Linked DNA regions of Homo sapiens. The protein of the gene in region 2 interacts with the protein of the main gene of each other region in a pairwise test. Each region holds a gene or a part of one and is shown on either strand. Other genes may lie near its edges.

What was found.
Region 1: the proteins of KPNA6 (region 2) and IL1A interact in binary tests that used the Homo sapiens proteins (3 or more experiments, as listed by UniProt).

The regions. Positions count from the first base shown.
Region 1 is NC_000002.12:112,782,289-112,786,041, reverse strand, and holds the start of IL1A (interleukin-1 alpha precursor), read left to right. Parts: upstream 1-1,548; 5' UTR 1,549-1,599; intron 1,600-1,641; exon of another isoform or gene 1,642-1,727; intron 1,728-2,263; 5' UTR 2,264-2,271; coding exon 2,272-2,318; intron 2,319-3,277; coding exon 3,278-3,326; intron 3,327-3,753. UniProt on the Homo sapiens protein: Cytokine constitutively present intracellularly in nearly all resting non-hematopoietic cells that plays an important role in inflammation and bridges the innate and adaptive immune systems.
Region 2 is NC_000001.11:32,152,908-32,156,560, reverse strand, and holds part of KPNA6 (importin subunit alpha-7), read right to left. Parts: intron 1,974-3,653; coding exon 1,840-1,973; intron 1-1,839. UniProt on the Homo sapiens protein: Functions in nuclear protein import as an adapter protein for nuclear receptor KPNB1. Binds specifically and directly to substrates containing either a simple or bipartite NLS motif.

The sequences.
Region 1 (3,753 bases), on a different chromosome or scaffold from region 2:
GGTTAATCAGGATTAACATTTCTGTGTTGCCTAAAGAGGAACCAAGGTAAGCAGAAATGTAGCCAGTTGGCTGGCATCACTGTTGCTTCAGGATTCATCCTTAGACACCCAAGCTTCTACCCTAGTCTGGTGCTACACTTACATTGCTTACATCCAAGTGTGGTTATTTCTGTGGCTCCTGTTATAACTATTATAGCACCAGGTCTATGACCAGGAGAATTAGACTGGCATTAAATCAGAATAAGAGATTTTGCACCTGCAATAGACCTTATGACACCTAACCAACCCCATTATTTACAATTAAACAGGAACAGAGGGAATACTTTATCCAACTCACACAAGCTGCTTTCCTCCCAGATCCATGCTTTTTTGCGTTTATTATTTTTTAGAGATGGGGGCTTCACTATGTTGCCCACACTGGACTAAAACTCTGGGCCTCAAGTGATTGTCCTGCCTCAGCCTCCTGAATAGCTGGGACTACAGGGGCATGCCATCACACCTAGTTCATTTCCTCTATTTAAAATATACATGGCTTAAACTCCAACTGGGAACCCAAAACATTCATTTGCTAAGAGTCTGGTGTTCTACCACCTGAACTAGGCTGGCCACAGGAATTATAAAAGCTGAGAAATTCTTTAATAATAGTAACCAGGCAACACCATTGAAGGCTCATATGTAAAAATCCATGCCTTCCTTTCTCCCAATCTCCATTCCCAAACTTAGCCACTGGCTTCTGGCTGAGGCCTTACGCATACCTCCCGGGGCTTGCACACACCTTCTTCTACAGAAGACACACCTTGGGCATATCCTACAGAAGACCAGGCTTCTCTCTGGTCCTTGGTAGAGGGCTACTTTACTGTAACAGGGCCAGGGTGGAGAGTTCTCTCCTGAAGCTCCATCCCCTCTATAGGAAATGTGTTGACAATATTCAGAAGAGTAAGAGGATCAAGACTTCTTTGTGCTCAAATACCACTGTTCTCTTCTCTACCCTGCCCTAACCAGGAGCTTGTCACCCCAAACTCTGAGGTGATTTATGCCTTAATCAAGCAAACTTCCCTCTTCAGAAAAGATGGCTCATTTTCCCTCAAAAGTTGCCAGGAGCTGCCAAGTATTCTGCCAATTCACCCTGGAGCACAATCAACAAATTCAGCCAGAACACAACTACAGCTACTATTAGAACTATTATTATTAATAAATTCCTCTCCAAATCTAGCCCCTTGACTTCGGATTTCACGATTTCTCCCTTCCTCCTAGAAACTTGATAAGTTTCCCGCGCTTCCCTTTTTCTAAGACTACATGTTTGTCATCTTATAAAGCAAAGGGGTGAATAAATGAACCAAATCAATAACTTCTGGAATATCTGCAAACAACAATAATATCAGCTATGCCATCTTTCACTATTTTAGCCAGTATCGAGTTGAATGAACATAGAAAAATACAAAACTGAATTCTTCCCTGTAAATTCCCCGTTTTGACGACGCACTTGTAGCCACGTAGCCACGCCTACTTAAGACAATTACAAAAGGCGAAGAAGACTGACTCAGGCTTAAGCTGCCAGCCAGAGAGGGAGTCATTTCATTGGCGTTTGAGTCAGCAAAGGTATTGTCCTCACATCTCTGGCTATTAAAGTATTTTCTGTTGTTGTTTTTCTCTTTGGCTGTTTTCTCTCACATTGCCTTCTCTAAAGCTACAGCCTCTCCTTTCTTTTCTTGTCCCTCCCTGGTTTGGTATGTGACCTAGAATTACAGTCAGATTTCAGAAAATGATTCTCTCATTTTGCTGATAAGGACTGATTCGTTATACTGAGGGACAGCAGAACTAGTTTCCTATGAGGGCATGGGTGAATACAACTGAGGCTTCTCATGGGAGGGAATCTCTACTATCCAAAATTATTAGGAGAAAATTGAAAATTTCCAACTCTGTCTCTCTCTTACCTCTGTGTAAGGCAAATACCTTATTCTTGTGGTGTTTTTGTAACCTCTTCAAACTTTCATTGATTGAATGCCTGTTCTGGCAATACATTAGGTTGGGCACATAAGGAATACCAACATAAATAAAACATTCTAAAAGAAGTTTACGATCTAATAAAGGAGACAGGTACATAGCAAACTAATTCAAAGGAGCTAGAAGATGGAGAAAATGCTGAATGTGGACTAAGTCATTCAACAAAGTTTTCAGGAAGCACAAAGAGGAGGGGCTCCCCTCACAGATATCTGGATTAGAGGCTGGCTGAGCTGATGGTGGCTGGTGTTCTCTGTTGCAGAAGTCAAGATGGCCAAAGTTCCAGACATGTTTGAAGACCTGAAGAACTGTTACAGGTAAGGAATAAGATTTATCTCTTGTGATTTAATGAGGGTTTCAAGGCTCACCAGAATCCAGCTAGGCATAACAGTGGCCAGCATGGGGGCAGGCCGGCAGAGGTTGTAGAGATGTGTACTAGTCCTGAAGTCAGAGCAGGTTCAGAGAAGACCCAGAAAAACTAAGCATTCAGCATGTTAAACTGAGATTACATTGGCAGGGAGACCGCCATTTTAGAAAAATTATTTTTGAGGTCTGCTGAGCCCTACATGAATATCAGCATCAACTTAGACACAGCCTCTGTTGAGATCACATGCCCTGATATAAGAATGGGTTTTACTGGTCCATTCTCAGGAAAACTTGATCTCATTCAGGAACAGGAAATGGCTCCACAGCAAGCTGGGCATGTGAACTCACATATGCAGGCAAATCTCACTCAGATGTAGAAGAAAGGTAAATGAACACAAAGATAAAATTACGGAACATATTAAACTAACATGATGTTTCCATTATCTGTAGTAAATACTAACACAAACTAGGCTGTCAAAATTTTGCCTGGATATTTTACTAAGTATAAATTATGAAATCTGTTTTAGTGAATACATGAAAGTAATGTGTAACATATAATCTATTTGGTTAAAATAAAAAGGAAGTGCTTCAAAACCTTTCTTTTCTCTAAAGGAGCTTAACATTCTTCCCTGAACTTCAATTAAAGCTCTTCAATTTGTTAGCCAAGTCCAATTTTTACAGATAAAGCACAGGTAAAGCTCAAAGCCTGTCTTGATGACTACTAATTCCAGATTAGTAAGATATGAATTACTCTACCTATGTGTATGTGTAGAAGTCCTTAAATTTCAAAGATGACAGTAATGGCCATGTGTATGTGTGTGACCCACAACTATCATGGTCATTAAAGTACATTGGCCAGAGACCACACTGAAATAACAACAATTACATTCTCATCATCTTATTTTGACAGTGAAAATGAAGAAGACAGTTCCTCCATTGATCATCTGTCTCTGAATCAGGTAAGCAAATGACTGTAATTCTCATGGGACTGCTATTCTTACACAGTGGTTTCTTCATCCAAAGAGAACAGCAATGACTTGAATCTTCAATACTTTTGTTTTACCCTCACTAGAGGTCCAGAGACCTGTCTTTCATTATAAGTGAGACCAGCTGCCTCTCTAAACTAATAGTTGATGTGCATTGGCTTCTCCCAGAACAGAGCAGAACCATCCCAAATCCCTGAGAACTGGAGTCTCCTGGGGCAGGCTTCATCAGGATGTTAGTTATGCCATCCTGAGAAAGGCCCCGCAGGCCGCTTCACCAGGTGTCTGTCTCCTAACGTGATGTGTTGTGGTTGTCTTCTCTGACACCAGCATCAGAGGTTAGAGAAAGTCTCCAAACATGAAGCTGAGAGAGAGGAAGCAAGCCAGTTGAAAGTGAGAAGTC
Region 2 (3,653 bases):
CTGGCCCAGGATGTGAACATCCTTTGTCCAGTGCATCCATTCCATGCTGTATACGCTGCTGCCAGTTAGTCACTTAATAACCAACTTGGTTATCAGGTGGCAATTGCTTGTGTTCAAGTAACCCTTATTTTACTTAGTAATAGCCACAAAGTGCAAGAGTAGTGATGCTGGCAATTCAAATGTGCCAAAGAGAAGCTGTAAAGTGCTTCCTTTAAGTAAAAAGATGAAAACATGAAAAAAAACATAGTATATGTAAGGTTCAGTAATATCTGCAGTTTCAGGCATCCACTGTGGGTCCTGGAATGTATTCCACAAAGAGAAGAGGAGACTATTGATTACTAACATGGAAAAGATATTCAAGGACTTGGAGGCAGAGGCAGCAGTGGGCCAAGATCACGCCACTGTACTCCAACCTGGGCAACAGGGCAAGATCCTGTCTTAAAAAAAAAAAAGAAAAAAAGGAATGATAGTATAGCAAAAGGGTGGGCAAAATCAGGTTAGGTTGGCCAGGCACAGTGGCGCATGCCTGCAATCCCAGCACTCTGGGAGGCCAGGGCAGGTGGATCACTTCAGCTCAGGAGTTCAAGACCAGCCTGGGCAACATGGCAAAACCCTGTCTGTACAAAAAAAAAAAAAAAAAAAAAATCCACAAAAATTAGCCGGGCGTGGTGGTACATGCCTATAGTCCAGCTATGCAGGAGGCTGAGGAAGAAGGATCACTTGAGCCCGGGAGCTTGAGGCTGCAGTGAGCTGAGATCATGTCACTCACTGCACTCACTGCACTCCAGCCTGGGTGACAGAGTGAGACCTTGTCTCAATAAATAAATAAATAAATAAATAAATAAATAAATAAATAATAATAATCAGGTGACTGAATCTGTTGGCGGGGTGGCGTAGGAGTGCAGATGGTGAGGCATTATTATAGTCTCAGGCTGGGCGTGGTGGCTTACGCCTGTAATCCCAGCACTATGGGAGGCTGAGGCGGGCAGATCTGGGCAGATCACAAGGTCAGGAGTTCGAGACCAGTCTGGCCAACATGGTGAAACCCAGTCTCTACCAAAAATATACAAAGTTAATTGGACGTGGTGGTACATGCCCGTAATCCTAGCTACTCGGGAGGCTAAGGCAGGAGAATTGCTTGAACCCAGGAGGCAGAGGTTGCAGTGAGCAGAGATCGTGCCATTGCACTCCAGCCTGGGTGACAGAATCAGACTCCGTCTCAAAAAAAAAAAAAGAAAAAAAAAAGAAAAGAAAAGGTAACAAGGAACTAGAACTAGAATGTTACAGTAAAGACATAAATGATGTCTAAGTTGGTCTAACTTGTGAAAAGGGGATAAGGTCAGTTTTCTCTTTCTCAAAGCTCCCAACATTTATTTACAACAAAGGAAACTGGATGAGTAGCTCACTCAGTAAGTAAGCTACTTTTCTTTTTTTTTTTTTTTTTTTTTTTGAGATGGAGTTTCACTCTTGTTGCCCAGGCTGGAGTGCAATGGCACGAACTCAGCTCCTGCAACCTCCGCCTCCCAGGTTCAAGCAATTCTCCTGCTTCAGCCTCCCAAGTAGCTGAGATTGCAGGCGCATGCCACCACGTCCGGCTAATTTCTGTATTTTTAGTAGAGAAAATGAAGTTTCACCATGTTGGCCAGGCTGGTCTTGAACTCCTGACCTCAGGTGATCTGCCTGCCTTGGCCTCCCAAAGTGCTGGGATTACAGACATGAGCCACCATGCCCACCTAGTAAGCTACTTTTCTACAGGGCAAGTCAGGGTGCATGGTGGAGGCCAACCATAGGGGCTTGTTTCCCAGAATAGTATGTTTGAGAATACTCCCATTAACTCACTTGTTGCTCTCGCTTCTGCTTCCGGAGCTGAATGCCCTCTTCCTCTCTTCTTCGTCTCATTTCTTCAGGGTTTAGAGCATTGTTCTTATAGCTCTTCATTCGATAATTGTCTTTCCCTGGGCTCGCCATGGTCTCTAGAAGAAAAGATACACACTGCCAAAAACTCTTGAGAGGACAGCATTTCCTTTTCACTAGACTTCTATCCCTACCCACCCTTCACCCTCCCCTACTCTGGGGGGAATACAGCTCTCTGGGAGCTCTCAATAGCACCTGACATCTCTACCCACCCCCCAGCCCCAGTATCTTTTAATTACAATAAGCTTGCTAAACAGGTGGTATTAAAGCAATTGGTATAAGCTTAGTAGTTAAAAGTGTGGGCCCTAGAGACAGATTGTCTGGGTTCACATCCTGACCCTTCTACTTGTTAGCTGTGCAACCTTGGACAAGCTCCTGTAACTTTTATTGCTTCAGAATTTAATCTTTAATAAAACAGGAACACATCAGGCACAGTGGCTCCCACCCGTAATCCCAGGGGTCTGCAGACCATACTTTGAGAAATGCTGTTTTTTTTTTTTGAGACAGGGTCTCACTCTGTCACCCAGGCTGGAGTGCAGTGGCACGGTATCGACTCACTGCAACCTCTGCCTCCTGGGCTCACGTGATTCTCCTGCCTCAGCCTTCCGAGTAGCTGGGATTACAGGCGCACACCACCACAACTGGTTAATTTTTATATTTTTAGTAGAGACGGGGTCTCACCATGTTGGCCAGGCTGGTCTCAAACTCCTGACCTCAGGTGATCCACCTGCCTTGGCCTCCCAAAGTGCTGGGACTATAGGCATGAGCAACCACGTCCAGCCAAGAACTGCTGTTCTAAGCAGTGAATTACTCAGTTGTAGGTAAATAAATGTTAACTTGACCAGCTAGTGCCAAAGTTGTCTTCCATAGTACTGCCACTGACAAATATCTTGACCAATACTTTTGACAATCTACTGGGTGTCATAAAGTATTTCACAGAGATGATTATTTGCATATCCCAGATTACTAATGAGGTTAGATTTCATGTTGTTATTAGCTATATGTTTCCCCTTCTGTGAAAAATGTTTGTTTCTGTATTTTTAAATATTTTTCTTCTTTTTTTTTTTTTTTTTTTGAGACAGAGTTTCACTTTTGTTGCCCAGGCTGGAGTGCAATGGCACCATCTTGACTCACTGCAACCTATGCCACCCAGATTCAAATGATTCTCCTGCCTCACCCTCCTGAGTAGCTGGGACTACAGGTGCCTGCCACCACGCCTAATACGGCTAATTTTTGTATTTTTAGTAGAGACGGGGTTTCACCATGTTGGCCAGGCTGATCTCGAACTCCTGACCTCAGGTGAACTGCCTGCCTCGGCCTCCCAAAGTGCTGGGATTACAGGCATGAGCCACTGCGCCTGGCCTGTTCACGTTCTTTTAAATCAGTTATCTGTGACTGTGTACTTTCTTCATCCTTAATATTGTCTTATTTGTGCCCTCTTTTGTTCCTGAGAACCTTTACCAGAGACTTGACTATTTTTATTTTAGTCTTTTGCAAGATCCAAGTTTTAGCTTCATTGAGTCTTCTCTACTATATGATTTCTATCCCCTTTCTACATTTTTTCTAATTTAAGTTGTATATCTAAGTAATTAAATGTTCACACTATACTTTTTTTTTTTTTTTTTTTTTTGAGATGGAGTCTCACTCTGTCACCCAGGCTGGAGTGCAGTGGCGCGATCTTGGCTCACTGCAACCCTCCGCCTCCTGGGTTCATGTGATTCTCCTGCCTCAGCCTCCCA